Homo sapiens: one gene and its partner. The protein of the gene in region 2 purifies or fractionates together with the protein of the main gene of each other region. This does not show direct contact. Each region holds a gene or a part of one and is shown on either strand. Other genes may lie near its edges.

Region 1 (3,751 bases), on a different chromosome or scaffold from region 2:
CACCACACAGGAGCCACTATTCTTATCAGAATAGTGAAGTTTAAAGCCATTCTCTCTACCAACACAATTTCTACCCATCCTTCAAATTCAGTTTAAATGACATTTTCTTATAGACCAACCTCTACATGTTAGCATTCCTCAAATCTTTGCCCTAGGGAACTTCCCTTCTCTCTCCACACTTCTCCCTAGGTGGTCTCATCCAATCTCCTGGCTTTTTATGCTGAGTACTCCCAAATCATGTCTCCATTATGAACTTCTCCTTGGGGTCCAAACTTGTGTATAACTGCTTATCTGATACCTCTAATTATGTGTCTAACAGGAACCTTACCCTTAATATGTCCAAAACATAATTCTCTATGTTGTTCTTTATGTTATTGTTGTTTGCCCCACAAACAACAATATACTATTTTTCCCTGCCCTATCGTCCTCCATCTCAGCCAATGGCACATCATCTACTTTACTGCTCAAGTAAGAAATCTGAGTTACCCTTGACATTTTCCTCTCTACTCTGCCACGCTGAACCATAAGTTAGTTCTCTTAAATGTCCCTTACGTCACCACCCTAATGCAAACTATTACCAATACAATCTCTTGAGCTTCCAAATGTAATACATTTTCTAAAGAGAACCAGGGCCTATTCATGATTCTCACTTGCTTACAAGTCTTCAATGTTTTCTACACATGGTAATAGGAACGGAAATGTTTTCCTATTGTACAGAAAAAAAAATTCCCCATCATGACCTTCAAGGCCCTACAGAACCTAGTTCCACTCTATCCGGCTAACTTTATCTTGTACTCTAACTATACTCCTTCCTAGCTCCCATCTCAGGAACTTAGCCCATTATCGCCTCTGCTTGAAGTACTCCCTGAGCTTCCAAATCTCCGTTTAAAGATCACTTCTTCAGACTCCACTATCTGCCAACTCAGCATCCAGTTCGTTTCCTCCCAGCACTTAGAATCTGCGTACATTCAGGCAAACCGCCTAGCACTGGAGTTGGGGTTTGTGAAGTAGCACAGACAGGCTGATCAGGCCGAGCACGGGCTGGGATTCCGGAGTGAAGCTAGTCCACTCTAACCCGGCACGCAGGGCAACGTGGTGGGAGAGAGGTCGGAGTCCCGCCCTTCTTTTTTTTTTTTTTTTTTTTTTTGAGACGGAGTCTTGCTCTGTCTCCCAGGCTGGAGTGTAGTGGCACGATCTTGGCTCACTGCAAGCTCCGCCTCCCGGGTTCACGCCATTCTCCTGCCTCAGCCTCCCAAGTAGCTGGGACCACAGGCGCCCGCCACCATGCCCGGCTAATTTTTTGTAGTTTTAGTAGAGACGGGGTTTCACCGTGTTAGCCAGGATGGTCTCGATCTCCTGACCTTGTGATCCGCCCGCCTCGGCCTCCCAAAGTGCTGGGATTACAGGCGTGAGCCACCGCGCCCGGCCAGTCCCGCCCTTCTTGCCAGGCTCCAGTCAGTCCCAAACTCCTAGCCCAGAAAGAGGCCAGAGGAGACTGCCCAGTGGACAACAGCCCCGAGAGACCTTCCCGACTTCCAGCGCCCGGCAGGGTGCGAACCCCTCCCAAGAGCGACCGCTGAGCCTGCCACACTCACCGCACACGTGGGACCGAGACAGCTCGCGCAGCGGATCCCGACCGCCTCTCCGCTTCCGCTTCCTTGCCTTGCTCCGCCCCCGGGCCGCTTTTTTTCATCTTCCGCGGCGGATCAGGGACTAAGAGGTGGAGCTTCCCAGAGAATACAAAAATTCGGAATTTCTATTGGTCCGCTGCTGTTATGCCTCCTCTTGAGGCGCGAGGATTTTGGCCCTTGCAAGAATCCGTCGGGCGGAGGACGCGACAACGGCCACGGGAAATGACGTCATTAACCCTGTGGCTTCCGTGCTGGAAAGAGAGGGAGAGCTCTTGCGAGGCAGAACAGGCTGCTGAAGGACAGACCTGGCTGGCGCGGTTAATAAGAGGCCTGCATCCCGTAGCCTGAACAAATATTGAAGTAGCTAAAGTTTCTAAAGTGTGTTAATTTGCATACTTCCTCAGCAGTCCAGCGTGGAGGATAAAAGGGGTATCTTGTGAGTCGATTTGAATTGTAATCCCGTTTTTTTCACTTGCTAGCTGTGTGGCTCTGGGAAAATTACAGTTTTTATGAGCTTTGGCTTCCTGATCAATAAAATAGAAATAATTAAGTGATACGTGCAAAGCGCTTAGCATGGAACGCTCTCAATAAATGTTTGCCATTTTTAGTGTCTGCTCGTGCCTGGAAACTGCTGTTATTCCATTTTATACTTCAGGAAATAAGATTGTGGTTAGGATATATGCCCCATTTTCCAGATGAAGAAACTGACACCACAAACTTGCTCGTGTCAAGCAACAGAATTTTATTCTTTAACTGTTCTAGAGGCAAGAATTCCAAAATCAAGCTGTTGGCAGAGCCCTGCACCTTTTGAAGGCTCTAGGGGAGAATGCTTTGCTTCTTCAGCTTCTAACGGTTCCAGGCGGTCCGTGGCCTCTTGTTGCATGACTCCAATCTCGGCCTGTCTTCTAATGGCCTTCTCCTGTGCCTGTGCCACTTCTCTGTGTGTTTTTAGGACACTGAACATTGAATTTAGAGTCCACGGGGATAATCCAAGATCATCTCATCTGGAGGTCCTTAATCACATCTGCAAAGGCCCTTTTCCCAAATAAGGTCACTTTCACATGTCCTGGGAGTTAGGACATAGACATATCTTTTGGAGACTATTCAACCCACTGCATCTGTAAAGTTGAGGAACTGGCACTTGATCCCTGGTGCCAGACTTCAGATTTTACTGTCTTCCAACTTACTCCGTTTTCTGGCCACTAAGGAGTTAGAGTTGAAACTGGTAATTTAGTAGACTGTATGCTTCTTGATGACAGGGGCCATCATTACTTTCCAGGCACTTATCTCACTATGCAGCACATAGATACTTGATAAGTTCTTGTCGTCTACCTTAACTGTTACTAGTTTACATTTCAGCTCATTTAAATCTCATAAGAACGTTTTAAATAGGTCTTTTCTCATTTTACAGAGAAAGGCAAAACATAGTAGCTTTGGTCCAGTGAGCCTGACTCTAAACTCAACGTGGCTGCCTCCGTACTGCTTTCAATAATTCAGTAAATGCTAAGAGAAGAGAATATGGAACAGGAATTGCAGGAGGCCCATCAGCTGTGCCTTTTGGGCAAATAGCATAGTAGTGGGGATATTAGACACCTTGAAACACCTGACAAGTAAATGCTGGCCAAAAAGAAAGAAAAATCGCAAAATACACCCTATCACACAACCCTGGGAAGGGATACGTTTGTGTTTTCAACTCGACAGACAGCAGCACCCCATATCCTTGAAGATAGGTCCATGCAGTTGCCTTAAGCATCTGCACCAAAACCCTGCTATTCATTTGCCTTTTCACCAGGGAGGAAAAAAAAAATGTTATCACATATCAAAGCCCTTGATTATTATTAAAAACTTTTTTATCAAGTCTTCTGTGAAAGTGGATTGATTTGGATTTTTTTTTTTTTTTTGGAGTGAATTGAAAGCATCGTGTGGTTTTGCAGAACAGCACAAAAAAAGCTTATCCTGTAATTTTTTTTTTTGTCAAGCAAACCCATTAATTCTTCAAATATCTAATGATCTAAATGTAGACCACTAGGTGTACTCCTACAAGCCTAAGATGCTCTTCTTGCGTGATACACAATTTAATCAGAGCAACTAGACTTGCACACATCCAAGAGGTTAATAAC
Region 2 (3,751 bases):
ACTTCCCAGGTCCTTTGAGACAAACCAAATATCTCCTTCTTTATCTCTTACCTAGCATCATTTGTTCATCTTTCTCCTCACACTTAACAGCACAATTTCAATGTTTCTTTTCACCAGTCTGCCTGTGCCTCAAGTTTTTATGTTTATCCCCAGTGCCTAGCACAGCTTTTGACATAAATGCTGTGACCAATTATTATTCAACAGATAGATGAATGAGACCCTTCTGCTGAGGGGGAAGGGGTAAGAGATGGGGGAAGGGATAAGAGATGGGAGAAGAGGCCCATTTAAAAATAAAATGGTGATAGCAAATAACAATCACAGTGAACCTGTGTTAAGCTCCTATTGTGTGCCAAGCATTGTATATATTATTGCTAACCTTTAACAAAAAGGAAAAATGGCGAAAGTAATTTTATTTTCTCTTCTTATAGATCTGCACTGTTTCAATAGGGTAGCCACTACCCACATAGGAGCATTAAGCACTTAAAATGTGGCAAATCTGAATTAAAATGTGCTGTAAGTATAAAAATACATGCTAGATTTCAAAGATTTAGTACTAGAAAAAAAAGAATGTAAAATATCTCAATAATCTCTATATCGATTACATGATTTTTTAAAATTTTGTGTTAAGTAAAATATATTCTTAATTTTTCTTTTTTTTTTTTTTAAAGGGTGAAGTTTGGGGAGAACTCCCAAGAGAATGGGCACAGGAAGTAGCATTTATCTACGCACTAAAATGCCAGACACTTTTAAACACCTCACATTTACAACAATTACTAGCCCCATTTTCCAGATCCTAATACTCGGGTTAAGTGATTCACCCAAATGCCTGGATCTTGAAAACTGTAGCCCAAATTTAAACAAGGTATTTCCGGATTCAGAGTTCTTCTGATAACAGGCCCAAGTGTAAGGAAACAAAGGGCGATCAGACCCCAGAAAGGCCTGTCACGAGGAGTTTTGAGAGTAGTCAGACTGTCCAGCCGCGGAGCAACCTAACCAGGCACTGGAAGACACCACCAGATGCTCAGGGCAAAACCTTTTGTCCCCTCTCCGCAGCGAGGCAATCCAGGCCGGAGAGTCAGATGCACCTGAGAAAACCAATATCCCCAGGGCATATCTTGGGGTTGGGTCAAACTCCATTCCTTATCCTAGAAGCCCTGCTTATGGGTCCCGGAGGTTGACTCTGCTAGTGCTCCGGCGCCCTCTAGCGATTGTCCATTCCAATGCCAGCTCTCTCTAGTCCGTCCTTCTAGACTCACCAGCTCCTAGGGCTTGCCCTGCCGTGGACCCCTGCCAGCCTGATTTTGCTCCTCCCCTACCTCAAGGTGCAATGAATTGCCCTACACTTGGATAAGAAAGAGGTCTTCTGGTCAATAAGCCTTAAACCTGAGCTTTCTAAAGTTAATCCGAAATACTGTATTTTCCCCCTGACATTTCCAAGGAGAAATTTCTCTAGTTTCCTAAGTAATAAGAAAAACAAAGTTAGAAATACTGTGTTCTGAGCCAAAGATGTAAAAGCAACATTTAAGAAAGTTTGTTCTTTTTGAATGACGCTTTAATTTAAAACAGAATAAAGGATTCCCCTGTGTGTTCCTGGAACTGTAAACACTCATAAACTCTCTTTGTTTACTTTATTGACTCAATTGTGACATTTAAAATAGAAAGCTAAGTCTATGCATGAGCAATTTTTTACAGAACATGCACATTAACAGAGATGGCTGCAGACAATGACTTTGTACAAATTCAATCACATTTATTGGGTAAATATTGCACTGGCTCCAAGAGACAGCAATGTAATAAGTCCCAAGCCTACTCCTCCTAACACTCTAATGGAGGTGGGAGACACCCCCGCAATCATCCCTAACTCATACTTAATAAAGATCAGCAGTGCACATGGTGCCAGAGATTGGCTCCACTGCTGTAATTATCTCCAGGGAACTTGAGTTTCTTTATGAGGGGAGTAATCAGAAGGGTTGTTGAATGAGTCTCCTGATTTTGAGAAGTCACTTATTTGAGCTTTAGTTTCCACATTTGTCAAATTAAATTGCTAGAGTCAGCAGATGATCCCCAAGCTCTCTTCCAGTTCTGAGAGTCATAGAACATGCACATTAACGGAGATGGCTGCAGACAATGACTTTGTACAAATTCAATCACATTTATTGGGTAAATATTGCACTGTTGAAAGTTGCTGATCACAGTTTAGAGATGAGTCCATCACAGATCAGCTTAAATGGGCTCCCCTTCCAGCCCTATGACTAAAATAATAGGACTGGAATAAACTTTCCCAAAGAAGGCATCCTTATCACTTTCTTATTTTTGAGACTTGCCTTCCAACCCTCAATATTTACTGAGCTAAAAGCTGATGGTTCCCAAGAGGGTTTCCAAAGAATACAGCAGACAAATAAAGGACTTCCCAGGATGTGCTGATTTAGGAGAAAATATATCCAATATATCACATATATTTAGTAGTTCATACAGCAAACAGAAAGCTCCCACATAACTGCAGTTTCTAGTACAGAAAAAGAAAACCTGAAAGTATATGTAGGCACTAATATGTTTTTATTATGCAGTCACAAGTTTAGGAGATATTCACTGAGTTTAACACTAATTGAGGCCTTACTATAGACTATTTCAAATAACATAGAAAAGATGATGCATCTTACCTGACCCATTTATTGTGCTTGATTTTTGGATTTACCATCAACTATCACATAAATACTTTATCCAAAAAATGGATGTGTAACCCCAACCTAAATTATTATCATAATGTGCTTCCCTGAAAAGAAAATATTATAAGATTTTGGGGACATCTTAAAAAGAATTAAAATCAGTAATCTATTCTTTGCCATCTACATTCAATCAGGAGAAAGGCAACTGTATTATTACATGTTGGAAGATCAGTTTTAATGCACCAAAGAATGGTCTTGAACTATGTGACATTTTATTTTGAATGCATTTAAATTTTTCTATTTTGATATTTTGTAAATCTAGTGTACTGGCTACTGTTGCCAAGGAAATATGACTTTGGGTTACTGAATGGATCTGCAAAGGTTTTTGTTTTTCTTTTAAAATATTAACAAGACAAAAATGGAAAGATCAAATATGGAACACAAATTTAGCCCTTTCTCTCTTCAAAGTGCACGGAATACAGATCTTCTTACACACCACTGATTAAAAAATACAAAGATGCATGAAGTGATTTTTCCCAACTAGTGTAGAGACTTTTACCCAATTAGCCAAGTTGATATCATCAGAGTACCTGTCTCATTCTTTGTTCTGGATTCAGACCACTCTGAAAATGTGTGGTATTGATTACACACAACACTGACGGCTCATCTTCAATAAGTTCATCTCTAAATGAAAAGATCCTTTCTTTATGTGGATAAAGGTAACATAATGTTCTAGGGTGTTACATTTCAAAGAATTTTCGAAGTGAAGTCAGAAGAAGGCATAGTGCAAACCTTATAAATGTGTTCAGTATTAATTCCAAAAGATTCAAATACATATGAGAATAAAGATTCCACCATTAACCCATTTTTTTTGGTCTGTGATTGTTTCTTATAGTCAGTATAACCTCAAGGTTTTAAGTCATAATAATGGGCTTGAATAATCTAATTATTTAAAAGAATCAAAGCTTTTTTCTATTGTTTTGGAATATTACATAAAACTTCTCTATAAACAGATAACATCTTTACTTCCTACTAACTGAAATGAGGTATTTTTAATTAGAAATACACAAGCAGATTAAGTATAC

The links. Proteins that work in one complex are often made in the same cells at the same time.
Region 1: the proteins of CPNE4 (region 2) and PUM3 purify together in Homo sapiens (affinity purification with mass spectrometry; 2 studies listed by BioGRID and IntAct, with this or other methods). This does not show direct contact.

Annotation. Positions count from the first base shown.
Region 1 is NC_000009.12:2,842,450-2,846,200, forward strand, and holds the start of PUM3 (pumilio homolog 3), read right to left. Parts: upstream 1,647-3,751; 5' UTR 1,596-1,646; intron 1-1,595. UniProt on the Homo sapiens protein: Inhibits the poly(ADP-ribosyl)ation activity of PARP1 and the degradation of PARP1 by CASP3 following genotoxic stress. Binds to double-stranded RNA or DNA without sequence specificity. Involved in development of the eye and of primordial germ cells.
Region 2 is NC_000003.12:132,028,275-132,032,025, forward strand, and holds part of CPNE4 (copine-4), read right to left. Parts: intron 1-3,751.